2 separate regions of the Homo sapiens genome follow, and region 2 is linked to region 1. Evidence: fine-mapped expression QTL. A gene starts in region 1. The other region holds a variant in brackets. All regions are shown on one strand. Distances are between the middles of the regions.

The links. PIP is the estimated chance that this variant, and not a neighbour inherited with it, causes the effect. A credible set is the group of variants that fine-mapping cannot tell apart.
Region 2: its variant is the best candidate, but not a certain one, in a credible set for the expression of PRKAB1-AS1 in whole blood (Lepik 2017, PIP 0.52).

What each region holds. Positions count from the first base shown.
Region 1 is chr12:119,659,513-119,674,734 of GRCh38, reverse strand. It overlaps PRKAB1-AS1 (PRKAB1, TMEM233 and CCDC60 antisense RNA 1), which reads left to right and starts at 6,608. Exons shown (of 3, transcript NR_188494.1): 1 at 6,608-6,792. PRKAB1 (protein kinase AMP-activated non-catalytic subunit beta 1) reads right to left here and starts at 6,602. Exons shown (of 7, transcript NM_006253.5): 1 at 6,332-6,602; 2 at 2,271-2,434; 3 at 678-771; 4 at 281-395. The coding sequence starts at 6,490. LOC124903033 (a long non-coding RNA gene) reads left to right here. Exons shown (of 2, transcript XR_007063485.1): 2 at 1-335. RefSeq lists enhancers at 5,272-5,907, 6,346-6,755, 8,890-9,034, a silencer at 6,856-7,125 and a cis regulatory region at 8,953-8,970.
Region 2 is chr12:119,832,656-119,846,676 of GRCh38, reverse strand. It overlaps CIT (citron rho-interacting serine/threonine kinase), which reads left to right. Exons shown (of 48, transcript NM_001206999.2): 6 at 12,449-12,591; 7 at 13,813-13,906. Among named protein-coding and RNA genes, the nearest start is that of CIT, 38 kb to the left of the region's middle. The variant T/C (reference allele first, on the strand shown) is at 10,433.

The DNA of each region.
Region 1 (15,222 bases):
TGGCACGAGATCAAGCTATGGTTCCATTTCTGCTGTCTGCGTTCTGTGGCCAAGCAGACCTACTGAATACCTGAGATGACCAGGGAAATGACTTGTAGCTCCCTTAGGGCTAAATTTCAACAACCTGACAGGAATTAAGTTCTGTGGCCTTTAAGTGGGGGCTATAAATGCCTATCTGACTGGGCAGCTTCAGCTCAAGAGAGGCAAGAGAAACAAGAGTATGTCTAGACTGTACAGCCCCCACCTGCACGCATGTGGTATAAAATAACTGTGTTCATACCAGACACATCGGAGCACTTTTGGGAATCCACCATTAAAGCATCAAATACTTCAAAGTCAGTTTTCTTCACTTGAATGATGTTGTTAACTGTGCCAAGCTGGCTGGTTACTATGGGCTGGGAAGAGACAGATAGGCAGAAATCATAACGTGGAAGGTCTGCGGAGTTATTCTTCAGAGGACTTGGAATTCCTGGCTGGAAGGCCTCATCTCCTGGCTAGCCACCCTGCTCATCTTGGTCAAGTATGCCAACTGTCTGACAGGTAGTGCTGCTACTCAGCTCTGCCACACACGGGGACTTTTACTAGCTGGGCAAAGGGACCTAGCGGCAATCTCTTGGGAAGGTGATTTGTTTGGAATGTGCGGGCACCCAGAGGACCAGAGGTGGGAGGAAGAGTACCTCGGAAGGGTCGTGCGTCCACTGACCATCCACAAAGAACTTGTACTGATGCTCTCCTTCCGGCAGATCCAGGATGGCTACAAAGTTATTGTGGCTGCAAGGAAAAAGGAAGCAGAGGACTTCCGTGGGGTGGGCTGCCCCCCGAGCTTACTTGCCAAACCAGCTACAGAACAAAACGTTTCCACATAAAACCAAGAGTTCAGCTGCAGGAGAACAAACATTTTTAGCCCATTTAGACAATTCAGCATAATGACCTCAATCTGAAAAGGCTATAAGGAAGCAGCAGTGCGACACAGTTTCCTGAAAACTCACCTTACTCAAATACCAGGAAACCACATCCCTAATGTTAAAAGGTCAACAGTCAGGCATTTGTGCGTCTCAAGCTCGCAAGGCTCCTGGATGCCAAGGAGGATGACAACACAAGATAAACAGAAGCTGCCTCGTTTTACCCTTTGTCACTTTGCCTTGGGCAGGAGAAGGGATCAATTGAATAGGAAGCTCAAATGTTCTCTAAAGAAACTTGCCTAATGACTGAAAAACCAAACTCCGGAAGAGCCCCTTCACTGGGTTGTTTTGTCCCCTGGCTTGAACTGACCTGTGACTGCTGTGCTGAGTGGCTCCCTCCTTCTCCAATGGAAACGCTGGAAAGCAGGCAGCCCCTGACAATAGGCCTGACACTTTCTCCCTCATTTTATCAAGAATACTCACTAAAGGTGTTCTCTCACTGACAACTTAAGACAGAAGTCCATGCTGGGGTTCCTGATAAAATGTCTTACTATAATCCTTGCTAATGACACCTACATAGCATGTATTTTTCTTTTCTTTTTGGAGACAAAGTCTTGCTCTGTTGCCCAGGCTGGAGTGCAGTGGTGCAACCACTGCTCACTACAGCACTGACCTCTCAGGCTCAAACAATCCTCCCATCTCAGCCTCCCGAGTAGCTGGGGATACAGGTGTGCACCACCATGTCCAGCTAATTTTTAATTTTTTTGTAGAGATGGGGGTCTCACTATGTTGCCCAGGCTGGTCTTGAACTCCTAGCCTCAAGCAATCCTCCTGCCTCAGCCCCCAAAAGTGCTGAGATCATAGGCATGAGCCCCCATGCCCAGCCAACATGTACTTTTCAAACAAAGTATTACGCAGAGTCAAAGTTAGATGAAACCTCAGAGATGATCTGGTCCAATATTCCCTCTTTACAGAAACGAACGCTGAGGCTCAGGTTAACTAACGTTAGGTGACTGACAGCATGGCCAATGTGGGCTCAAATGTGGGTTTCTAAGATTCCAGCCCAGTGCTCCCTTACTGCATTAAGACAGATTTTTGTGTTTCTGTGGAAAAGTCCTGACCGAACAGATAGCTGAGGATCTGAAGTGAAAGATGTCTGTGACACAGAAATATTCTCTTTCTTCTGTACTCTAAACCTAGAGACCACCAAGGTTTAACATTTGAACCTTAAGACTTATTAAGCAAAATTATTTTTCCACTAGGCATCCATTTTATAGAAACATCCATTTTCTGTTCTCTCTCAGAGATGTTTTAGAAAGAAGAGAATTTATGTTAAGACAAATATGTGAACACTCCCCAGGCAATTACCTTCTGGTGAGGGGAAGTTTACTCCAGTTGTTGAAGGACCCAGATAAGTAAACTTCCTTTCCGCCCCCCGTCCATCGAAACACCGTTGGCCGAGCCTGGGCGGGAGCTTTATCATTCACTTCCAGATCATGCTGCCAGGCCAGGAATTCCTCCTTCTCTGGTGCCTAGAAGCAGAGCAGTTTACTCAGAAAGCCATAAGCGAGCTCCCTACAACAGACAATATTGACAATTCATTCTAAAGACGCAGCTGTTACTATCTTGGTTCATGGTTAGGATCGGAAACTTACTAGTGGTGCCTCAGTTTCCTTGCCTGCAAAATAGAAATATATTTTTTAAGGTTGTGAAGACTGAGACAGTCCATGTAAGTGCTCTATATAGTGTCTGACACAGTGAGTGCTAATTATTAGCTATTGTTGTCATTAAAGAAGTTGACATCAAAATTCTAGAAGAAGCTATGAAACACACTTGGAAGGGGCTACTACGAATCCAAGACTAGCTTAATGTCATGTTCCTCCCTTAATCAAGCAAGATTTGAAGTACAGTCATGTGCATGATGTCTTAGTCAACGACGGACTGTGTATATGGTAGTCCCATAAGATTATACCATATTTTTATTGTTATCTTTTCTATGTTTAGATACATTTAAGTACACAAATCCTTAAATATACTTGTGGAATAAGTGTCTACAGTATTCAGTAGAATAACATGCTGTACAGGTTTATAGTCCATAAGCAACAGGTTACACCATATAGACTAGGTGATACGGTTTGGCTCTGCGTCCCCACCCAAATCTCACCTTGAATTGTAATCCCCATAATCCCCACGTGTCAAGGGCAGGACCAGGTGGAGGTATCGATCATGGGGGCGGTTTCCCCATGCTGTTCTCTGACAGTGAGTGAGTCTCATGAGATCTGATGGTTTTATAAGCATCTGGCATTTCCCCTGCTTGCTCTCATTCTCTTCTGCCGTCCTGTGAAGAGGTGCCTTTTACCATGATTGTAAGTTTCCTAAGGCCTCCCCAGCCATGCGGAACTGAGTCAATTAAACCTCTTTTCTTTATAAATTACCCAGTCTCGGGTATTTCTACATAGTAGCATGAGAACAGACTAGGTTTGTGTAAGTACACTCTATGATGTTCACACAATGATAAAATCACCTAATGATGTATTTCTCAGAATATGTCCCTGTCATTAAGTGATGTATGACTGTACATGAAAATTTAAGAGGAACAATTCTAGAGCTGTCAACTTGAAAATAGGCAAATCCAGATTTTGAGGAAGGGAAAAACTACTCACAAAGTTCTGTCTAGGGACTGGGGAATAAAGCAAGACAAAGACTGAACCCTCATTAGGATAAATGATAACCTCCAGTGTGGTAAGCTCCGTATAACTGAGGTATTCCAGAATAAGAAATAAACTCATCCAAATCTATCTGGATGACATATGTAGTCATGCACCTTTTAGATTTTTTCCCAGTCAGAAGCCAAAGACTTAAAAAGAGCAGAAGGTTCAGGCTGGAAAAGACTCTTCAGGGAGTTAAGCAGGCTTCTAGCACCTTCATCTCAAATACCGACCTCAGCTTATCCAAATGATGCCTGTATTCTTTGAATTCTAACAAGATCTACATATTAAATAACAGACTGGAATCACTTCACACTAAGGATAACTAATTATGACCAAAATAGCACCCTAGTGTAGTTAAAAGAATTCACGACTTTTTTGGTATCTGGGGATTTCAGTAACTTCTAATGAAGTGAGAATGGACGCTGCTTGAAATCATTCCCCATAGATGATGTGTGTGCTCAACATTTCCTGGAGGAGTTTTGGAATAGTAACAGAACAAATACTTCTGAAGAAAGTAGTTTTGATTCCTTTGGTGTCTTAAATAGCCTTCTTGGGACCAGGGACCAAAATTACCTCCTGGGGAAAGGACGTCAAGTCATTAGAGAAACATGATTCTAAAGTTCACTTTGCACACAGCTCTTCAAGAATGCAACAAATTCAGAGAGCAAGTTCAAACCACAGGTTGTAGGGCCACATAAAAGCAGCCTCTTTGTAGTCAGGCTCAAAACTAAGATCCAAAAGAAGGTGTGAGATGTGATCACCTCGCTCAACATGAGGACAAACACAGATGGAATGAGCTGCCAAGCAATTAAATGGATGATGATTAACATGAAATTGGATACTAACAGGGTATGTTGGGCAGAGGGCAGCTTTATCTTTCCTAAACCTACTTTGTTCCTTGAAACAATTAGTTCCTTTTGGACATAACACATAAATACCAGCTGCCAGAATCACTAAGTGTCCTTGGACTGAGCCCTGCGGCTGGAAATATCCACCATATGAAGGTGGTTAACAGGAGTGTGGTTGAAGCAGGAGTTAAGTCACCTGAGTTTTTGAATTTAAACAGGCTGCAGCAGGAAGAAAAATGTTTGCACTGGCCTGCTTAAGCACGATTAAGTCATATTTAAACAACACTAGAGAGAAGTTCAGTAGCTGCTGGCTGCCTCCTTCAGACAGACCCTCACCGCCCACTGACCTCTAGAAGCTGAAAGACTTTTCTATGTACGCTTTAAAAAAAAGCAGGGTGAGGCCGGGAGTGGTGGCTCATGCCTGTAATCGCAGCACTTTGGGCGGCCCAGGCGGGCGGATCACTTGAGGTCAGGAGTTCAAGACCAACCTGGGCAACATGGCGAAACCCCACCTCTACCAAAAATACACAAAATTAGCCAGGCATGGTGGCACACGCCTGTAGTCCCAGCTACTCGGGAGGCTGAGGCAGGATGGTTTGAGTCCGGGAGACGAAGGTTGCAGTGCCCCGAGATTGTGCTACTGCCCTCCAGCCTGGGCAACAGAGTGAGACTCCATCTCAAAGAAGGAAAAAAAAAAAATAAGTAGGGTGGGTTCAGTGGCTCACGCCTGTAATCCCAGCACTTTGGGAGGCCGAGGCAGGCGGATCTCCTGAGGTCAGGAGATGGAGACCATCCTGGCTAACACGGTGAAACCCCGTCTCTACTAAAAATATAAAAAATTAGCCGGGCGTGGTGGCGGGTGCCTGTCGTCCCAGCTACTCGGGAGGCTGAGGCAGGAGAATGGCGTGAACCTAGGAGGCGGAGCTTGCAGTGAGCCGAGATCGCGCCACTGCACTCCAGCCTGGGCGACAGAGCGAGACTCGGTCTCAAAAAAAAAAAAAAGTAGGCTGAACCGGCCAGCACCGTAGCTCACGCCTGCGATCCCAGCACTTTGGGAGGCCAAGGCATAAAGATTGCTTGAACCCGGGAGTTCGAGACCAGCCTGGAGAACATTGTGAGACCACCGTCTTTTTTATTTTTATTTATATTTTTTTTTTGAGACGAAGTCTAGCTCTGTCGCCCAGGCTGGAGTGCAGTGGCGCGACCTCGGCTCACTGCAAGCTGCGCCTCCCGGGTTCACGCCATTCTCCTGCCTCAGCCTCCCGAGTAGCTGGGACCACAGGCGCCCGCCACCACGCCCGGCTAATTAGTGAGACCACCGTCTTTTAAAAAATAAGTAGGGTGAATCAAAAGTGTTGGGCAGAACTAAACACCTCTGGCAACTGCCGTCAGCTGTTCCGCTCTACTTTCAGCTTGTATATGTACCTGGTTTGCCTCCAAAATGGATAAATTCCCAAACTAACTTTTACAAAAGCTCCAGTTTGTGTAAAGGTGAGGGAATTTGTCTCAAAGCAGTGCAATTAATTACACCTAAGAGAAAAGCAGAAGCTGGGGCTCAATTACTGTTAGCTCGACTCTGAATTAATTAAGAATTTGAAACTCTGTCCCAGAGCTGCTTTCTCCTTAATGATGTTAAACCAAGTGAGCACCTCCTCCCTCAGGGTGACTTTCTCATATTGGTAATTAGACACAGGTTCTTGGACCGCTAAGAGAACTCTTACAGGACCATCTGGCTTTTAAGTGCACCGGGTAATGTACCACCTCCCTCTCCGTTCTGGTGTTTTTCGAAAGGATGTGACGGGAATCTAGTGGAGGGTTCCTCTCCTCAACATTAGTCAAGGGGAATCGGGTTCCTCCACACCGCTCGCACCTTGATTTCCTCGGAGTGGAAGAGGTCGGCGTCTTCGGGGCTGTCCATCAGGATCTTGGGCCTGTCCCCGTCCTTGGTGCCCCCCGAGCTGTCCCTCCGGGGCGTCTTATGGCCACCATGCCGCTCCAGCGCGGCGCGCTCACTGCTGGTATTGCCCATGATGGGGGTCTGCGGGGACACAGGGAAGGCGGACGGCGCCTCACTGCAGGAAAGGGACCCTGAGCAAGGGACTCCCGGAACCGCGGGTCCCAAGGAGCCTGCGGAAGGAGTCGGAGCACCAGGACACCACGCCCCTCGGGCCGGGAGCCGGTTCCGGCTGAGTCGGCAGGGTTGCCGAGCTCTCGCAATCGCGCTTTACCTGCCCAGGCAAGCCGCGGCAAGAACGCAAGGGGCGCGAAGATAAACCGACACTTTCCCAACCGCTTCACCACCCCTCAGCGACTTCCGCTTCCGGCGACTCCGTAAGTCGGCCCGGCCTAGGGCGTGGAGGTGGCGGCGGCCAGCTAAACGCGCGAGGCTATCTCGATTCCATTTCCGCTTCCGGTCTTGAGCGGTGCGGTAACAGGTGCCCCGGGCCGTCTCTGCAGGCCTCGGAGCGCGCAGTCGCAGTCAGCAGCCGGCCGCCCAGGGCCAGGCCCAGGACGAGGCGCTGCCGAGGGCCGGCAGGGGGCACCCCAGCGCGCGGGCAATCTGAGCCGTTCATGCGCTGGGCTGAATAATGCCATTTAGCTATCTTTGCTCACTTATAGTTGATTCTACACTCTGCAGCCAGAGGGATCTTTCTAAAATGCAAATCTGATTCAGAAACTCCACTTCTTAAAGCCCTTTTAATGCACGTGTTCTCACGCTTTACAGTGCATTAGGTTAACCTGGAGCGCTTGTTAAATGCATCCCCCACTGCAGACCTGCAGAATCATGATTTCTACAGATTAGGGTCGGGGGTGCAGGCAGTCTTGCAGGTATTTGAAAAAATGGCAGACCATAAGATCTCTGGAAATTTCTTATGTCTAGTAGGTTGGGGGTTGTAAAATGCTGGAGTTATTCGTGTATTTTTATTGAGTGTGCAATCTTTTGATAGGTAATTTTGCAAGATATCTTGTAATCACTTCGGAAACATCCTTCTGCATAAGATGCATTAGCGTTTGTCATTTACTCTGGTCAGTGCTTCAACAAGAAGTGCATACAAATACGGTAGTAAAATATTCTCATCTTCTCATTGTCAGTCATTGTCATATTTTGTGGGTTTTTTGGTGTGTGAATATCTCAAAATACTTTGCATTTGCCGGGTCAGGTCATGCATTTCACCCACTGAACATTTATTTAGTACCTAAAAAAGTACCAGACATTGTGCTAAGGAAATGAGGAACACAAGATGACTAAGATAAGGTTTCCTGGGGGGAATTCAGCAGTATGCATCAAAATTTAAAAATGCACCTTCATTTTGACACACAATTTTACTCCTAGGAAACTTGTGCAGAAATACACACATGAAAATTATTTACAAGCATTATCTACAAAATATTTACATGCAAAAATATATTCTAAGATGCACTTGTCACCCCCCATGCCCCCATATATTTTAATTTCTGAAACTGGATGCTTTTTACAATAATGGAATCTTACACTTGGTGAAATAAGGAAATGAAAAACTACAAAATCCTAAAAGTTGTTCAGTAGGAGAATGGCAAAATGAATGGAATACATTCATTTTGTAGAATACCAAGCAACTTTTAAAAAGGGAGAAACCATTTTTAGGTCACTATGGGGAAGTGTCTATGATATTGCAAGGTCCGGAAGCAAGTGAGAGAACAAGTTCAAGGGCAGGAGCTCTGAATTCAGCCTGGCCATGTTCAGATTCTGGCTTTACCATTTAGTAACTGTCACCTTAGTCTCTTCTTTTGTGAAATGGGAACAAAAATAACACCTACTTCATAGGCTTGTTTTGTGAATTAATTGGGAACGTGCATAAAAATGCTGAGCATAGCACTTGACTCTTAGTAAACACTCAATAACTGTTAACACTTTTATTAGCACTATTAGGCTAGCAAATGGAAAGTTCTGGAAGGGTATACAACACATTGTTAATAGTGGTCTTCTGTGGGGAGAGGAGGGAGATTGCAAATAGGAGCAGACAGAAAAGGGACTTTCACTTTTCATTTATATAGTTCTGTATTTGAAAAGTTTTCTATTGTGAGGATGTACTACTTTTTAATTTAAAAAAATAAGATATGGTTCCAGCCCCAAAGGAATTAATACAGTACAGGCTGGCACCGACCCACAGAAAAGCAATAATATAGCTAGGTAAGGGATCCTGTGGGAGCCCAGAAGGGACTTAAGCCAGGCCAGGAAAAGGGATGGGAGCCAGGAAAAGGGATGGGAGCCAGGAGGGTCTTCCTGAAGCTGATGACTGAGAATTTGAATGTATTCAGTATAATCAGAAATGTTGAATGTGCTTGCTGAATTAAATAAGCTAAGATACTGTGGATGACCCAGGATATCTTCTTTGAGCTGCTTTTCTAATAGTGGCCCTGACTTGGTTACATGAGACAGTGGGGTGTTGAGTTTTGAAATCTCTCCCAAACAGCCGGAGAGATAAGAAAGAACACATGAGCTGTGGATTCTTTATCTGAGCTATGCAGATGCTTTGATGCATGAAGAAAGTTTTAAGACATCTGCACTAGCTTGAATAAGATAACAGTGAAAGCATGGGTGGCCCTTGATGTCAAATACAATCAACAATATCCTGAGGATGCCACCAACTGCTGATTGGAAACTCTTACCACATTGTATCAAGATTTCATGACAAAGAAACTAACATTGGTATCTATCAGCTATTGACCCCATATTGAAAATCATGGGTAGGGTAGACTCGCCAATTACAAGTGTCTACTTGGGTCCCAGCTGTGTCTCTCTTGGGTCATTTTGTGTTACTTATCTGTGTAACAATGGTTTGTGACTTTCCTAAGCATCAGAGCGTCTCATCTTTCTCTGATTCTCTGCTGATATGGATGTCAGACCATTCCATCTTGGGGGCTGGAGGTGTGCCAGGAAGTATAACTGTTAGCACATTGCTGTGTAAAAGGCATCATCTACTCACTGCTGTCTGTCTGGCACCAGGGCAAAGACAAATGATAAATACCCTAGATTCTCCCCCAAACAAACCAGGGCAATTTTAACACAGCCACAGCTAGGAGTACCCCTCCCCCACCCCCGCAACCCTGGCTTCAAATTCACTCCAGCTCCAAGCACAAAAAGAAGTAGGTTTTCAAGTCCTTAAAAGTCACCCAGAGTGAGATAAAATCTCATTTATCCTTAAATTTATGATTAAAAGGGTTAAGGATAATGTTTTGGGGCCTCCTCCATAGGATGGATTAGAATCAGTATAGCACTTCTGAACTGACCAACCCATTTGTTTTATATAAGGAAGAGTCTAAGTCCCAGAGATCGAACAGTTTTGCCTGAGGTCACTCAGATGATCATAGGTCATACTGAGACTGAATTCTGGATCACCTGGCCACTCCCCACTACATCATGGTCATGGCACCTCATCAAAAAGACCTTTGGTTCCCCAGCTGGCCTGTCTACAAACATTTGTACTGTTCTGAAGAACCCTCCCCATCTAAGAACAGCCAGGGCTCTGATCACAAATAACTCAATGGCAATATTGAGTGCCAATTATGAGCCAGGCACTGTTGTAACTCTTGGTTACAACAGTGAACAAAACCAAGTTCTTGCCCTCCAGAGGAAAGAGTCCACACACATATGCACATGTGGTGAGAACAGGCAGTGTTCTCACTAAACATCGGTAGCTGGAGGAAGAAATTTCACATTTGGACTATGCTGTAGACTAAATTGTATCCCCCCAAAATTCATACATTTGCACTCCCACTCCCAATTTTATAATGTTTGGAGGTGGGGCCTTCAAGGGGTAATTAGGGTTAGATGAGCTCATGAGAGTGGGGCCCCCATGATGAGATCAGGGTACTTATGGGAAGAAGAGACGCTGGAGAGCTTGCTCGCATGCTGTCTATTCACGCCCATGCTCAATGGAAAGGCCATGTGATGACAAAGCAAGAAGGCGGCCATCTGCAACTCAGGGAAAGAGCCCTCACCACACATCAACCATCCTGGCACCCTGATTGTATTAGGCCATTCTTGTATTGCTATAAAGAAATATTTGAGGTTGAGTAAGTTATAAAGAAAAGAGGTTTACTTGGCTTATGGTTCTGTAGGCTGTACAGCAAGCATGGCTCTGGGTATCTGCTTGCTTCTGGTGAGGCCTCAGGAAGCCAAGGGGGAGCCGATGTATTGATGTATCACATGGCAAGAGTGGGAGTAAGAAAAAAAGTGGGAGGAGGTGCCGCACGCTTTTAAACAACCAGATCTTGTGAGGGCAGCACCAAGACGATGGTGCTACACTATTCATGAGAAGTCCACCTCCATGATGCAGTCACCTCCCACCATGTTGGAGGCCTCACCTCCAACATGGGATTACATTTCAGTGTAAGATTTAGGGGGAAAAGTATCCAAATTATATCACTGATATTAGACTTCCAGCTTTCGGACCTGGGAGAAGTAAATCTCTGTTGTTTAAGCCACCCAGTTGATGATTTGTTATAGCAGTCTGAGCTGACTAAGACAGACTCAAATGTGTGTGGGCTGCTAGGATAGAATTACAAGCTTACTTTTAGGGCTTAACCAGATTTCCACCAGGCCTTCTGAATTTTGCCTAGCCAATGTAAGTAACACTGCCAATGTTTGAGAAACTTGTCCATCTTTTCTTGCTAGACATTCTTGTGTTCTCTTTGCACTGAGATGTGAATATTGTGACAGAGAGTCATCAACATAGAATTAAAAGAAGTTCATTCTACAGCATTTGGTCTACAACCTTAATTGGCAAATAGCCTCATTTTGTGACTTTTAGGTTGTCTGAGAAAATTCTGTTTCTTGACCTGGGTTGGTAATTATTAACATGTTTGCCTTGTAGTAACTTACTAAGCCATACATTTCTTTTGTGTAGTTTCCTGTATCTTTATTTTATTTTCAATAAAGTTTTTTTTAAATAAATAGCTTCACTCACAGGGTAAGCTGAAACCTAGAAGGGAGAAGTGCCCAGTTCAAGGTAACACAATGTTCTTAATAAAGTTCACCTCAAGTCTATCCTCTTTTTTTTTTTTTTTGAGATGGAGTTTCACTCTTTTCACTCAGGCTGGAGTGCAGTGGTGCAATGTCGGCTCACTGCAACCTCCGTCTCCCGGGTTCAAGCGATTCTTCTGCCTCAGCCTCCCAAGTAGCTGGGACCACAGGCGCACCCCACCACGCCTGGCTACTTTTTGTATTTTTAGTAGAGACGGGGTTTCACCATGTTGGCCAGGCTGGTCTCAAACTCCTGACCTCAGGTGATCCACCCTCCTCGGCCTCCCAAAGTGCTGGGATTACAGGTGTGAGCCACTGCACCTGGCATCTCTATCCTCTTTTAAGAGCTTTGAAGGAATGGAGGAGAAAAGGATGTACACTTTCTACCCCTTTTCTAGAGGACAAGTGACAAACTAAAGCAGTATCCAGGCAAAGATCCAACGGAGGTGAAAACAATGAGAGGAAGTCTGTCTCTGTCTCATCTCTTTAAAATGTAAGCTCCCAGGGATTTGAATATCAAAGTTTCATAATCACTTTAACATATGCTGTTGGGACCATCATACCCCATCTGCATGTGCCCTTCTGCGCATGCCCCAAACTTCCTAACTGTGAGCAGGTGCAACTCTGAGGGCCTTCTGGAGAAAGCTTTGTCGACACAAGTGGGAACCCAAGGGGACCAGAGAAGACACCCTGAGAGAAGCCCTCAGCCAACCACAGAGGAGCCAGTTCCCTTGCCCCTTGGATGTGCTAACTCTAATGAAGCAGCGTCATTTTTCTGGGGTAACACCCGAGGTTCGATGTCTCATGCTAAGGAAATTGAAGACATGGCCATGCAAGGAGTGGGTTTAAGAGTGGAAAGTTAAATAGATGAAAGAAGGAAGAGAGCTTCCTCATGCAGAAGAAGGGGTCCTGAGTGGGTTTCCCTGGTTTGGGGCAAGGTGTGGTTGGTTTTAGGGATGAGCGTGAGGAGATGGTATATGATTTACATGGGGTGTAGTGGATTGGTTGGACCAGATGTGCCATTTTCATAGCCCGTGAAGAGGCTGGTCATCCCACTCTAATCTTTTATTATGCAAATGGAATTTTAAAAAACCTGGCTGGTGCCATGTTATCTGCACACGTGGCAACAAAGAAAAGGGAAGAGGGAACCTCCATGTTGAATATACCTGGTTTCCAGCTATCTGTTTTCTATTGGCACAGCTGCTGGTATTTACCTATGCAAGCCTCTAGCTTGCTTATCTATGCTTGCAGCTTGATTTTTCAGGCTGCTTTTTGTTAAAAAAAGAAATGATTTGGAGACTGCGTTTTTATTAAAAGAAAAACCTTACTGAGGACTCTCTTACCCTCACTAACTGTCTAAATAATTTCTTTTTAGCTCTCGTATAACTAAGATATATTCCCTACCGTGTCTCAGAGGTCCCCAGTGGAAATGCACCCTAGATGTCCACAGCAGTAATTGGATCAAGGAATTCATTGATTATCTTCCTTTCCTTTTCTTTATCTCTTTTTAGGAGCACCTTCCAAATAAATACTCAGAAACACCTCCCAAGACACACTAATTGCATGAAAATCCTAGTTCAACCACATAGGTTACAGATGAGGAGGGACAATAGCTTGCTGAATTATAGAAAAAGTTAGTGGTCATAGATCATAATTTGGATCTTATGTCTTGGTTTCTGGTCCAGGGTACTGTGAGATTATCATTCTTCTTGATATGATGAACCATGGAGACTTTTAAAAAACAGGGATCGGCAGCATTATCATAATAGACAGAAGGTGGAAAGAATCCAAATGTCCACCAAGAGATGAGTTTGTAGGCTGGCACAGTGGCTCATACCTGTAATCCTAGCACTTTGGGAGGCCGAGGTGGGTAGATCAACTTGGGGCCAGGAGTTCGAGACCGGCCTGGCTAACATGGTGAAACTCCATCTGTACTAAAAATACAAAAAATTAGCTGGTTGTAGTGGCGCACACCTGTAATCCCAGTTTATTGGGAGGCTGAGGCATGAGACTTGCTTCAGCCTGGGAGGCGAAGGTTGCAGTGAGCTGAGATTGTGCCACTGCACCCCAGCCTGGGCGACAGAGAAAGACTCTGTAACAACAATAACAAAATGAATTATAAACAAATTGTGGTATGTTCATACAGTGGAATATTCTTCTATCACAAAAAGGAATAAAGTACTGTTACATGTTACAATGTGGATGACCTCAAAAATATTAACATTATGCTAAGTGAAATAAGCCAGACACAAAAGGTCATATATTATATGATTCCATTTATATGAAATATACAGAATAGATATATCCATGTCAATAGAAAGCAGACTGGTGGTGACCACGGGCTTGGCGGAAGAGGGAATGAGGGCTTTCTTTTGGAATGATGAAAATGTTTTAAGACTTGGCATAGATGGTGGTTCCACAACATTGTCAATGTACTAAATGCCTATGAATTGTTCACTTAAAAATGTCTACTTTAAAATTAACATTTATGTTGTATGAATTTTACCTCAAAGAAAATAGGGTTAGTCCTAGAACAAATGGTAGAGGTGTACAGTTTATCTTTTTTCCAATTTATTTTCTGCAACTGTCTTACAAAATAAACCTCTCCGCACCCTGTCCTTCCCTGTAAGTGTCTCATGACTCATGTCATCTAGCCCATCAGAACCTAACTAGTTCATGGCACTTGTTCTAGTTAATATTGATTTTTTCAGAGGCCTTCAGTTTTCTAATTGCATTAATTCATTTCTTTATCAATAACTTTTTCATGGCAAAAACTCCTATCCACCGGGCACTGTGGTAGACACTGGGGAGAGAATTGTGGGCAAAATCAAACCCAGGCTCTGTCCTGAGTGTTTACGATCTAGTAGGGAAGAGAGAAATTAATCGAACAATCATCCAACAGTCTTCTGTGACAAACGCTAAGAAGGAGAAGTGTGACCTAGTGAGAAGGATGTGACCAAGTCCTGAGGTCAGAGGAGGCTTGCTGAAGGAAGTGACAATCAAGTTGAGATTTGGAGATTGTAGGTGTTAAAGTGAAAGTTGTTTATCAATCCTTATTATGCACTCGGCATTGTGTTTGATGTATGAACTCATGTAATGCCACCAACAGTCCTTTGAGGGATCTACTATTATTACCACTTGCATTTTTCAGGAGAAAATGAGGCTCAGAGAGATGAAGTGACTTATTCGAGGTCACACAACTAGAAAGTCATGAAACCAGCATTCAAATGCAGGCAACCAGACAGATGTCAACATTTTAGCCACCACGGACAGATCATTGAGTGAGGGATGAAATCATTTTGGGTGGGCCAATGGATTGGGCTGATCTAGATTATAAGTATAAAGCTGGAATGGTCATTCAGAGAGGGAGAACAAACTAGGTGTTCAATTGTTTTAATATCTATTAAATTTTCTAGGCTAGATGCAGTGGCTCTCAGCAGCTTGGGAGGCCGAGGCGGGAGGATAGCTTGAGTCCGGGAGTTTAAGACCAGCCTGAGCAAGCTGTCGAGACCCCATCTTTATTATATTTTAAAAAATAAAAATTAAAAAAATAAAAAATTTTCTAACTACGAATCCATGTTTGTTTTTTCTTTTCTTTTTTTTCAAAAGAGCATCAATTTCCCAACCATGTTTCTTATTGTTACAAAACTCAATAAAAATCTGAAAGTTGGAAGCCATGACTTGCTGGGTGTAACGTACTAATCAAGAAGGTGGAATCAATTATTAAATAGTCAATAGGGTTAACAGCAATGAGT
Region 2 (14,021 bases), 170 kb before region 1:
CTGCCTTGGCTTCCCAAATTGTTGGGATCACAGGCATGAATCACCACACCCAGCCTATTTTTAGATATTTTAATTCGAGCTCTACAGGAGGTTTAGAACACTAGCTTGTGAAGATAAACTTCATTTTCAAGGCCACACAGAATCTAAGTGGTCCTGGAATTAGGAAGGGCTTTGATTTTTTGGACCAAAGTTGAGAGTCCACAGTTTTCTGGTCTACCTTGCACTGCTCCATAAACTCATATTTCTTTTCTCTGAGCTGAAGAGCTCCCCTTCTTGGTGTCTAGTCTCAGGCAACTTATTCTTAAAAGTAAGCATTATTGAAATGCTTTGGGATTTTCACATCATCAAGGTCCATTTTGGTAGAGGCACTGACAGATTTTGAGTGTTCTGTGTGAAGGAACTCAGTTGAGGATTTAGTGGTCCATGTGGCAGGCTACTGCTCAGTAGCTTCAGGGAAACCACTGCTTGCCTCCCCTGTGGCCAGTGAGGATGATCAGAGGAGTCCCAGCAGGAATGCCCAAATGTAGTTTTCTTACATGTTGATGGGAGTGCATTGTTTCATGTCTAAACAGTTCTCAAATCACATCTTCAGGAGGGTACTATCTGGGCACTTTGATAATTTCTCACTTTGATGTCACCGTTCTTATTACCATCACCTAGTTTTGTCATAGTAGAAATAACTTTCCTTTTTCTGTGTGTGTGTGTGTGTGTGTGTGTGTGTGTGTGTGTGTGTTTTGAGATGGAGTCTTGCCGTGTTGCCCAGGCTGTAGTGCAGTGGCGTGTTCTCGGCTCACTGCAACCTCTGCCTCCCGGGTTCTCCTGCCTCAGCCTCCCGAGTAGTTGGGATTACAGGCGTGTGACACCACGCCCGGCTCATTTTTGTATTTTCAGTAGAGATGGGGTTTCACCACTTTGGCCAGGCTGGTCTTGAACTCCTGACCTTGTGATCCGCCCACCTTGACCTCCCAAAGTGCTGGGATTGCAGGTGTGAGCCACCACGCCTGGCTTTTTTTTTTTTTTTTTTGAGACAGAGTCTTGCTCTGTTGCCCAGGCTGGAGTGCAGTGGCGGGATCTTGGCTCACTGCAGCCTCCACCTCCTAGGTTCAAGCAATTCTTCTGCCTCAGCCTCCTGAGTAGCTGGGATTACAGGTGCCCACCACCATGTCCGGCAAATTTTTGTATTTTTAGTAGAGACAGGGTTTCACCATGTTGGCCAGGCTGGTTTCTAACTCCTGACCCCAGGTGATCCGCCTGCCTCAGCCTCCCAGAGTGATGGAATTACAGGCATGAGCCACTGCGCCTGGCCACCTTTGTCTTCTTAGTTGTGGATTTAACTGCTGTGGACATCTGCTTGGGCATAGCCTTCCCGGAGTACCTCTTGGATTGGGACTGTCTGTGGGTTTCTGTGCTAGGACAGGCTCCCAGATGTAGGAGGCTTCCCCAATGATCTCACCACTGGCATCGGCATCCTTAGCTTCTACTCAGCTTTTCCATCTGCCATCTTGCAAGATGGAAGGTTGTTTTGTTTTTGTTTTTGTTTTTTGGTTTATTTTTTTTGAGATAGAGTCTCGCTCTGTTGCCAAGGCTGGAGTTCAGTGGCGCAATCTCGGCTCAGTGCAACCTCCACCTCCTGGGTTCAAGTGATTCACCTGCCTCAGCCTCTGGAGTAGCTGGGATTACAGGCGCGTGCCACCATGTTCGTTTAATTTTTTGTATTTTTAGTAGAGACGGGGTTTCACCGTGTTAGCCAGGATGGTCTCGATCTTCTGACCTCATGATCCGCCTGCTTCAGCCTCCCAGAGTGCTGGGATTACAGGCGTGAGCCACCGTGCCCAGCCTAGGAGGGTTCTTAATGCAGCTGTTTTTTGGAGTTCTGGTTGCCTCAGCACACTGCTACTTGGGTCAATGACATTTTTACTCCCTTGTTTTGTAGCTCAATTGGGTATTACTGATGGGATTTTGTAATTATTAATATTTTCTTGTCTCCATTTTCTTCTCAAGTACTTTGTTGCTTTTGAGTAAAATGCTTGCTAAGGGTATAGTTTTCACATAAAAGCTCAAATTTAGCATGGAAATTAAGATATGCTCATACGTCTGCCATCCCTTATCTGTAATTCTGAAATACCTAGAGTTCTGAATAACCTCAAATTCTTTTGTTACTTGTTTATCAGCAAAACCTGATTTGAACTCAGTTTTTGGCAAAACTTGATCCAAGCTCTCTTAAGGCTCTTTTTAGTCTTTATTCATTCCCTTTAGTGTGACTTCCCATTTTGCTATAAAATTATGAGTGTGTTTGATTACAAGGTGATGTCCCAGACCCTACTGAGGGTGTTACATAATATAAACTGTATGTATGGCTGGGCGCGGTGGCTTATACCTGTAATCCCAGCACTTTGGGAGGCCGAGGCGAGCGGATAACCTTAGTTCAGGAGTTCAAGCCCAGCCTGGCCAACATGGTGAAACCCCGTCTCTACTAAGAATACAAAAATTAGCCAGGCATGATGGTGGGCGCCTGTAATCCCAGCTACTCCTTAGGCTGAGGCAGGAGAATCACTTGAACCCAGGAGGTGGAGGTTGCAGTGAGCCAAGGTCATGCCACTGCACTCCAGCCTGGGCGACAAAGCAAGAATCTGTCTCAAAAAAAAAAAAAAAAAAGTGTGTGTACCACTTTACCTTTCTAAAATCTGAAAAATTCTGAATCTGGAAACCCATTCTGCTTCAAGATAAATGGATCCTAGATTTATATCGGTACCGTACAGTCCTGAAATTCCATCCTATCTATTGGCCACTTTTACATCAACAAACCTTTGAAGTTTGGGGAAACTTACATATCACGCTCCCTTGGCAGTTGAACATTATTTATTTATTTTGAGATGGAGTCTCGCTTTGCCCAGGCTGGAGTGCAGTGGCGCGATCTTGGCTCACTGCAACCTCTGCCTCCCGGGTTCAAGCAATTCTCCTGCCTCAGCCTCCTGAGTAGCTGGGATTATAGGCATGCAACACCATGCCCAGCTAATTTTTGTCTTTTTAGTAGAGACGGGGTTTCACTATGTTAACCAGGCTGTTCTCGAACTCCTGACCTTGTAATCTTCCCTCCTCGGCCTCCCAAAGTGCTGGAATTACAGGCGTGAACCACCACGCCTGGCCCTGAAGATACATTTTAAATCAATGAAAAAAACAACAGGATTCTACCTCCTATGGTATATCCCTCCTGGCTGTCTCTTCTCTCCAGTCTTGCCTCTGCTGTGTGGGTTTCAGGCATCCATCTTCTCTACTCTGAATTACTGTGATAACCTCTGAAGTATTTTCCCTGCCATCTGTCTGGCCCTTCTCCCAGGTCTTCCACATACTGCAGCCAAGTCAGCCCGCTGTTGAAACCCTTCAAGACTCCCTGCTGTCCTCTGGATGAAGTCCAGACTCTTCCACGTGACTTACCAGGCCTTTCTTGCACTTGTCCCCAGCCACTTACTGTTTCTCTCTTTCTACCTTAACATCCTGAACTTCCTTTGGTTCTTTGACCTTGCCTCTGACCTTTTTCCATGCTGTTCACTCTTTCCCTGTTCACCTTGCTAACTCCTCTTTCTCTTTCTGGGTTGGATCAGATTTCACTTCTTCCAGAAGCCCTTCCTAGACCCTATACTTCTGGAATGGCGCCTTTTGACTGTACGCTCATTGCACCCTGTACTTCTCCTTTATGAGTGGGTGCTGGTCTGTCCCACTAGGCTACTTCATCCATAAAGGGAGAGTAGAGCTTTACCAAGTCAATGCTTAAGCAATATTTATTGGATGAATGTGTGATTAATTTCATAGAAATTTGATGTGCATTCAAATTTACTTATTGTATTACGGAACTTGCATTATATTCTCAGTGGAGTTATTTTCTTTCACGTGTGTAATTCAAGATAGACTCAGTGAGATTTTCAAAATTTGGAATGCAGTGCAAGGAAATTGAACTTGAGTTCTTTTGCATTTTGATGGTTAAAAATTTCCCATTTGTGGTGACATACCACAATAAGCCAGTGAATGTGGCTTATTGTTTTCTGGTCTATAGAAAATTGTCGCAAACTCTGTCATAATGTCTGGTTCTATATAACAAAGCTAGTCCTGTATTCTGCATGTGGCTGATGGAAACAGTGCTCTGTTGATCTGGTTCATGAAGAAATCTGTTCAATTCTGCATAACAGATGCCTTCATCAGTGTCCTTCCATGAAGGAGCTGATCTTCACAAAGAACACATAGTTTTGCATCCCACCACTTGCAGTATTTTTTTTTTTTTTTTTTTTTTTTTGAGATGCAGTCTCGCTCTGTCACCCTGGCTGGAGTGCAGTGGCATGATCTCAGCTCAGTGCAACCTCTACCTCCTGGGTTCAATTGATTCTCCTGCCTCAGCCTCCTGAGTAGCTGGGATTACAGGCGCACACCACCATGCCTGGCTAATTTTTGTTGTTTTAGTAGAGACGGAGTTTCACCATATTGGTCAGGCTGGTCTCAAACTCTTGACCTCATGATCTGCCTGCCTTGGCGTCCCAAAGTGTTGGGATTACAGGCGTGAGTCACTGTGCCCTGCCAGTATTGTTTTGTCTAAATTATTTGTGCTGATGTTTTTCCTACTGTGGTTTTCTTCAGATTACCCTTGCTCTGAGCCTGCAATTGACTCATGAACTTCTTTTCCATGTTCTAACCTTACAATGACTTCCTTGTGTTCACTCCAAATGTTTTTCCCTGGTTGCATGTAGAGATGTATTAGCTAAGGTACATGCTTAGCTGCTGTATCAAAGAGACCCTAATGTACAACCCAGGCTGGTAGAGCAGCTCTGCTGTATGTGTTAATTCAGGGACCCAGGTTCCTTCCATGTTGTGACTCCCCCCTTCCTTAGGATGTTGTCTTCTTTTACATGGCTGAAGTTGGGCCATTTCATGTCTCTGTTCCAGCTGCCTGGTAGGAAAAAAGAACAGAAATTCAGAGTAAGCAAATTCTTTTTCTATAGATGGATGCGGAAGTTGGACACATCATTTCCTCTCACATTTTCTCGGCCAGAACGTAGTCATGTGACTGCACGTCTAGCTGCTAAGGAGACTGGGAATTTACTGTCGGCTGTGTGGCCTCTGTCAAGCTAAAATTCTTATTACTGTGGAATAAGGGAAGGATGGATTTGGGGGCACAATTAATAGTCTGTCACAGAGGCTAAAACAGCTGCTTTTGGCTGGGCACGGTGGCTCACACATGTAATTTCAGCACTTTGGGAGGCCGAGGCAAGTGGATCACTTGAGATCAGGAATTTGAGACCAGCCTGGCCAACATGGTGAAACCCTGTCTCTCCTAAAAATATAGAAATTAGCCGGGCATGGTGGCGGGTACCTGTAATCCGAGCTACTCCAGAGGTTGAGGCAGGAGAATTGCTTGAACCTGGAAGGCAGAGGTTGCAGTGAGCCAAGATGGTGCCACTGCACTCCAGCCTGGGCGACAGAGCAAGACTCCATCTCAAAAAAAAAAAAAAAGGTTAAATAAACAGCTGCTTTTGTAGGTGATACAAGGTACAGCTAAGCTTTGAAGCCAGGCCTGTAGTTTCACCTTCCATATTCTTACTCAAGGCATTATACTTCTGGATCTGAAACCACTGGATCTGATGCCCTGCTTGGGATGAGTTCTTTATATTATCTTGCTTTCAACCCACACCTGTGTAATTTTATGGGCAGCGTTTGTTTCCTATATAGGAACAATTTGAAAGTGGGCTGTTTCTAGGCTTTCATGAATAGCAGGCTATGCTGTCATTGGGAATCTGGAGGGAGTTAATGAACACAACTTCATTGTTTACTTTAGTGAAATGTGGCAGCTTATGATAGTTTTGACAGTGAGACATGTGCTGTTTTGATCTCTCAGCTAAGATTATCTGATTTTTCAGGCATGTCTCAAAACTCACCAGGCCTGCTCACATGCTGCTGCTTCTGAAGCCAGGGTTTGGAAACCAGCTGCCCATCAGAATGAGGCTGTGACTTAGAATATTGGTTCTTGTTTTATTACCATTCCTTGTTTGGTCTCTCCAGAGTCACTGGCCTTTTCCGCTTCAATTTTCTTATCGGTGAAATGAGATATTAATTCCTCTTATTGACTTCAATTCAATTGCTGAGTGTATTGTTGCCTTTGGGAGGTTCTTTGAGTTTTCTGTGCCTTTGAAATAGTTGTTTTTTTTTATTCTGGTGTTTTGAGGCATGTTTCAAGTGAGTGCATTTACACTTCTACCATTTTAGGAGCCACAATTCAGTTATGTTGTCCCAGCTTGCTTGGCCCCATCCCCAGAGTTTCTGATTCAGTAGGTCTGGGGTGGGGCCCAATAATTTGCATTTCTTCTTCTTTTTTCGAGACAGAGTCTGACTGTGTCATCCAAGCTGGAGTGCAGTGGCACGATCGTAGCTCATTGTAGCCTCAAACTCCTGGGCTCAAGCCGTCCTCCCACCTCACCCTCCTGAGTAGCTGGGACTATAGGCATATACTACCATGCCCTGCCACCTTTTTAATTTTTTGTAAGGATGGGGGTCTCACTGTGTTGCTCAGGCTGGTCTTGAATTCCTGGGCTGAAGTGATCCTCCTGCTTCAGCCTCCCCAAATGCCGGCATTCCTGGCATGAGCCACTGCACTTGGCCAAGACTTTGCATTTCTAACTAGTTTCCAGGTAATGCTGCTGCTGGTGTAGGGACCTCATTTTGAGAACCATTGTTCTATAGCTGTAGCTATAGTTAGTTTCTGGTTATAGCTTCTTCCTTTTGTCCCTTCAGTAATAGTGTACACATCCGAAATCCCTGTCCTTGCTCTTTCAGGCCCAGGCATGGTATCTGGTCCTCTTCTGTTGCTAGCCCTGGGGTGCTTCATCATCCCAAGTTTATTTTTCTTCTCCTAACCTGAACCTTTGTAAATAGCCCCTTCCCTAATGAACGTCCTCAATTCCCTGTTTTGCGTGTCCTGTCTGTTTCTTGGCAAGACTCTGGATGATTCAGTACTCAATGAGGATTTTTCGCATAGATGGATGAAACAGGCTGGGTTTCATGTTTTCTAAGATAAAGGTGCTTCTCTCTTTTTCTCTTGGTCACTTTGACCAAGAAGAAAATAACAGAGTTTTTATTCTCAAGAAGAATAATATCGGGGCCACTCTGCTCAGAGGCCACTCTGCTTTGAGGACCCCTTCTCTCCTCCCTCATGCCAAAGATCAGGAACATTGGGCAGAGCGGATAACGATGCCGCCAGCGTCATTACATTTTCACGGCACTTTCAGTTGTGCTGAGCGTGCAAACATTTCAAGGAGACATTTCTAAGAGGTGGCTAGCACAGCATGCCTCTAATGCCCTATGTGAATTGGAATAGAGTACTAAAGAACTGTTCAATATTCACCCCATCCCCGCATATGCAAGCATGCACGTGGGTTCATTGTATATGTGTGTGTGCACGTGTGCACAGACACATTTGTCCTTCGTTTCAAATGCAACACAATGGATGGAAATTGCCTTCCTGGTACTGGGGTATGGATGCAAACACCAACAGAGAAGCAGCCGCTACTTCCAAACTGAACACATGTGAGATTTGCCCTTTAATTAGCATCTGCAGCTGCTGCCATCAGAAGGGTCTGTCTCTGTTGGCCTGAAAGTCTTTGCTTTAAAAGAGCAAGTCCATTATAGCTCCAAGCCAGGCTCGTCTGTCAGCTGCTGTGCTTTCTCTGCCATCAGCGGGGTTGCCACATTGTTTTGGGCTGTTTCACTCTAGGACTCTTTCCTCCTCCTGTGCCCCCAGCCTTTGATTACCATGCCTTGGTGATCCTCATTTGGGTGACCTGCAGCTGCTCATTGTGTGTGCAGGAGACATCTCCAGTCCTTGTAAGGAGGGAAGATCACTGGCTTCAGTGCTGATGGACTGGTTATTTTCCAGCCCTTTGTCGTCAGTGATCTTGTCTTGATATGCAGAAAGGCTCCAGGTAGTCACTGAAAAAAATATAAGCAGCAGAGGTGATGGCTATATGAAAGTCACGTTTCATCAAGGGCATTGCTGCTATGGAAACTTTCAATTCACTTGGAGTAGGGAGCCATATTGGTTCCACAGCCTCCTCAGCAGTGGGTCCCAACACAGTGCTGGGCTAGCTGCCTCTGAATCACCGCAGTAGCTCCTTTTACTATAGATTCCTGGGTCCCACCCATGGAATGTGATCCATGAAGTCTGGGGTTATTCCCTGGAATCCTTTAAGCTCCCTAAGTGGTTGGGATGGGAAAGAGATATGCTTTATGTTACTATACTTCTTCTTATTATTATTTTAAAATTCTTGCCGGGCGCAGTGGCTCACACCTGTAATCCCAGCACATTGGGAGACCGAGGCGGGTGGATCACTTGAGGTCAGGAGTTCGAGACTGGCCTGGCCAACATGATGAAATCCTGTCTCTACTAAAAATACAAAAATTAGCTGGGCATGGTGGCGCATGCCTGTAGTCCCAGCCACTCCGGAGGCTGAGGCAGGAGAATCGCTTGAACCCGGGAGGCAGAGGTTGCAGTGAGCCGAGATCGTGGCACTGCACTCCAGCCTGGGTAACAGAGTGAGACTTCATCTCAAAAAAAACCCAAAAAAACAAAACTCTTTTTCATTATACCGGAACGTCAGCTTTATGGAGTCGGGGATTTTTTCTGTTTTATTCACTGCTGTTTCCCTAACATCTAGAATAGTGGCTGGCACGATAGGCACTCAAGTATTGATTTAGATGAGTCTATTTTATTTTCTTTTAAATTTTTAATTTTTATTAGAGGTGGGGTCTGGCTTTGTTGCCCAAGCTGGTCTCAAAACTCCTGGCCTCAAGCGATTGTACTGCCTCAGCCTCCCAAAGGGCTAGGATAGGCATGAGCCAACATGCCTGGCTTGTCTTATTTTTAACAAGCACTTCTGGTGATTCTGATGGACAATCAGGCTTGGGAAGTTCTAACCTAGAGGACCTACAGTTGTCTTGGGGTAGAAGCCAAGGCTATCCTGGTTTTTAGAATCAGTGCCTTACTGGGCATCTCTGAAGAGTAAAAGTCAGGGACAGAGTTACATTTTTGGACAAAACCAGATGCTGTGAATGGACTCTTGGTCACAACCTGGGTGGCGACTTGGTCCTTAACTTCTTCATCATTTTCTGCTGACCCTGTTCTTTGGTTCACAGCAAGTCACCTGATAAGAAGACTCAAAGACTGCTAGTTTGTTACTTTAGATGATGCTTTTGGAACCTCTTGGTACCATTTTAACAATCCAAACGTATTTTATGAAAGCACTCAAGTCCTGGGTCTTTATTGTATCTTTAAGCTCTAACAGCATGATGATTGAATAAGCTGTGGTTGGCCACACACAAGCCATCTTCCCCATGGCCTCCATTCATACTAGAATGAGCAGCTATACCCCAGTAGTATAGTTTTGGGATATGGGTAACATCTTGGGATAGCCACATTTACTTAGTAAATGTCTGGCTTACATTCTCCTAATGGTGCACTGTTGGAATTTTTGGTGTGGTAACCTGGAATAGTGTTGGTGGGTCAAGTTTGATTAGCATCTTTGATAAGGACCCGGTCTATTTAGAGGTTTGTCATTGAGTGTGTCTGTTTTGGCCTCATGTTGTGAAGCATGCTGTGTAGCAGCTGTTGTAATTTTTGTTGCTTGTTTTCTCAATCAACCCTGGTTTTGAAGAAATGGGAAGTTGTTCCACTCTTAGACTGATCTGACTTGGGAGGGGATTTTCAGTTCAGGAAGTTGGATCTTCTGAATGGAAGCAAAGAATACATGTCTTTTTGCCACTTTACAAGCTGGCTCTTGTTTTCTGAACTATTTTACTGGTCATTGCAAATAGAATGTCAGGAGTAGCTGCCAAATACTAAGTTGTGTTCAGTTTGTCAGTTCTTAAGAGTTGCCGGTGGCTGCTCTGCTATGCGTATGACTTTCTCAGCCTTAAACTTACAAGCCATACTGTTTTTTTCACATCTTTAATACAGCCATAGGAAATTTATAACTGTGGCGTGTCGTCATAAATATGCATTGTTCTTATTTTAAGACATTTCAGTACTAAAAGTATAAGTACTTCTGTTATTATCTGTGAATTTCTTTCCTTTTTCTTTTTTTGGATATTTAAGACCTTTTCGATGTCAATATATATTTAAAACAGACATATAAATTAGCATTCACCCACATACCCAGGGCCTATGGAGAACCAGGTTGGGATGAGTGGGTGAGCTACAGGCAGCCAGGTGGCTCCTGTGGGCTCCTCGAGGACTGGGGTGAGTAACTAATGTCTGCTAGGAACTTGGGGGAAAGAAGGTGTGTATGTTAGGTGCTGCCCCCTTCTAAGTGTTCCTCTTGTTCATAATTTTTTTTTTTTTTTTTTTTTTTTTTTTTTAGATGGAGTCTCGCTCTGTTGCCAGGCTGGAGTGCAGTGG[T/C]GTGATCTCAGCTCACTGCAACCTCTGCCTCCCGGGTTCAAGTGATTCTCCTGCCTCAGCCTCCCGAGTAGCTGGGACTACAGGCATGCACCACCATGCCCAGCTAATTTTTGTATTTTTAGTAAAGACGGGGTTTCACCATGTTGGCCAGGGTGGTCTCGATCTCTTGACCTTGTGATCCGCCTGCCTCGGCCTCCCAAAGTGCTGGGATTACAGGTGTGAGCCACTGTGCCCAGCCCATAAATCAAAATTTTTTCAGCAATTGTTATACAAGTGGAACCTTACTCTTCAAATGCAATTGTCCAGTGTCTGGCTTAATGTCTGCTGTTGTCAGAAACCATGTGAATGGAGTAGATTCCCAGGTTATAAGGAGCCCCCAGGGAGGATGCGCGAGTCACTGGCTTCTCCAGGGGTCTCTGGTTTGGGGTTGCCTTGGTGCTGGGCACACTTCCTGGAGATTTTACTGGACCAGCCTGAGGCCTTTGGGGCTCTGTGCAGATGCTCTACTTCTGACTTGTCTAGAGCTTTCTTCTAATTCTGGACTAAAAGCAAGCAGGAGTTTGGAGGATGATGGTGAGAATTCACATCCCCGAGTTGGCTTTTGGAATGCAGTAGTTTGTGAGATTTAGTGTTTTTTTTAAGAAGTATATTCAGATCTTGCCTTTTTCCCAGAAAGCATATGAGACAACTTCCAAGACATTTATAGCATGGCTAATAAAATGGGAAATCAGGGCGAAGGACAGGAGAACTCAATAAGGGTTAACATGGCTACAGCGATTGTCTAAATGGGTTCTTTTTGCTGGCCAGAGCAGAAAGGATCATGCAGTAAAGTGGGGGGGAAGAAAGGGAATTGAATGGTAGGTGAAGACTTCATGTTGGTGCCAGGCACTGTGCCAGGCCCTCCTAGGACCTTGTCTTACTCAATCCTCACACAGTGCTGCAAGAGGATTAGTCTTATCCCTGTTTTAGAGAGGATGAAACTGAAAGGCAGCGAGGTGAAGTCACCAGCAGGAGGCTGAAGCCGCCCAGGCTAACTGGCCTTATAGCTACCTAGGGACTCAGGAATATCACACCTGTTTATCATCAAAAGGAGAAAGGATTTCAGTTCCTTGGGGTAGAAGAGTTTCTTTTTGCTAATCAAACATTTTACTTGAGGCTTCATATTCTTCTTCAAGATTTTTTTCCTGTGTATGTACCAACACATGTAATAATTCCTTGTTTATTTCAAAAAAGGGGTTGTACTTTATTCTTTACAAGATTTCACTTTATATTGTCATGGACAATTTTCCATGGCAGTATGAATAAATGGAATCTGTTTGTTTTTAATATCTTTGTCTTATCCCATTGTTTACATATGTCATATTTTAGCCAGTCTCTAACTGATGGATAGCTGAATGATTTCCATGTTTTTTTCCCCTGTTACAAACAATACTGCAAGGAATCTATTTATCTTTCTATTTATCTGCAAACTATTGTAAGTACCTGTAAATTGTTAGAAGTGGAATTACTAGGTCAAAGGGGATATTTTCACATTTAAATTTTGAATAGAGGCTGTCAGTTGCCTTCCACACTGACTATAAAAGGAAAAGATTGTATCACATTTATTGCAAGCCTTCTGTATTCTGCTGGGTGCTGAGGGGAATACAGAAAGGATATAAGAGTGGTTGCCCTCTAGGAATATCCGTCTACACTGTACCTAATCCTAGGGAATGTCTGGGGTGTCAACTTGTGGGTGGGAAAGTGGGTGGATTTAATTCAACTGTTCAAGCTTGCCTTGCAAACACTGTGCATGGTGTCTGGGACTAGTCTTTCATTATATTGATTCCCCTGGGTAACAGATGTAATTTCCTTAGGGCAGGGACTTCATCCTACATGACTTACAGCGTGCCTTACACATCTTCTTTGCTTTGTGGAGACCTTGTTATTATAACACGTCAGGTGATATTCGAGGATCTAATTGAGGCATTCCCTATTTTTGGGTGTGTGAAGAATTAATAACTTTGGCATTCTATACAGGTCATGGAATATCAGCCTGGAGGGGACTTGCTGTCACTTTTGAATAGATATGAGGACCAGTTAGATGAAAACCTGATACAGTTTTACCTAGCTGAGCTGATTTTGGCTGTTCACAGCGTTCATCTGATGGGATACGTGCATCGGTAAGTGAGACTCTGGTAGCATTTTTATGCTGAGGATTTTCCTGTGTCGCATAAGAGTTCCTGCATGGAAATGAGTGGATGAGTGATTTCAAGATCAAGATAACGCCCCATCCAGTTTTTAGCCAGTCTACCAATAACTGGCTGAAAGCAAACTTTCCAAGATGGAGGACATTTCAGCTTGCTTATCCAGCAGTGCAATAGATCTAGAATTGTAATGTGCTCAAGTTTGCTAGTAATATCTATTAATGTAGCTAAATAAGACTGGGAACTCTTGCATGAGTTCTTTGGGTTATATGATAGAAGAACTGAATTTGGTTTGCAGAAGGAAATGTCATACCACATAGTAGTGTAAGACCATGGAGCTGTACTTCTCTAACTCTGCCCGTTAGAATTTACAATTTTTTTTTTTTTTTTTTTTTTTTGAGACAGAGTCTAGCTCTGTTGCCAGGCTGGAGTGCAGTGGTACCATATTGGCTCATGGCAACCTCCGCCTGCTGGGTTCAGGTGATTCTCCTGCCTCAGCCTCCCAAGTAGCTGGAATTACAGGCACGCACCGCCATGCCCAGCTAATTTTTGTATTTTTAGTAGAGATGGGGTTTCACCAGGTTGGCCAGGATGGTCTTGATCTCCTGACCTCATGATCCACCCACCTTGTCCTCCCAAATTGCTGGGATTACAGGCATGAGCCACCATGCCTGGCCTACAAAATCCTCAGTTGGTAAGTGGTTCTTCATGTCTTCATTCATCTGATGTTTTGTGTACATCTGAGAATGTTGTGGGAATACAATGATTGTTAGTCCAGGAATCACAAAATTTGAGATAGAGTCTCAGCTTTTCCATTGCCTAGCTACATGACCTTGGGAAAATTTCATAGCTCCTTTTGGCCTTAGTTTTCCTCATGTGAAATGTGTGTCTCTAGGAGAAATAATCCATTGAATAATATGTGTTTCATTTCTCTTCCTTTTCTTTCTCTCCTATCCTTCCTTGCTCCCTCTCGCCCTTTTTCTCTTTCCCCCTCTCTCCCTCTCTCTCTCCTTCCTTCCTTCCTTTCGGTTAAATTCATTTTGCAAAATGTATGCTAATAATTTATATCCACCAATAGAGGAGGTCTATATAACAGAATACATAAACAAAGATTTTTGGCTCAATTGAGATTCTAGGTTAGCACTTGCTTGCTGATTGGGATGGAGGAGGCAATTCATGGTCCTGATTTTCTTACAGAGACATCAAGCCTGAGAACATTCTCGTTGACCGCACAGGACACATCAAGCTGGTGGATTTTGGATCTGCCGCGAAAATGAATTCAAACAAGATGGTAAAAAATGGAATAAGATAGCTTAATAGAGTTTATACTAAAAAGTATTCTTGGTCCTCCTAAGTTTGGGAAGTGTTGGGATAAAATGGTGAACAATGTTTTGGAGCCTTTGGCA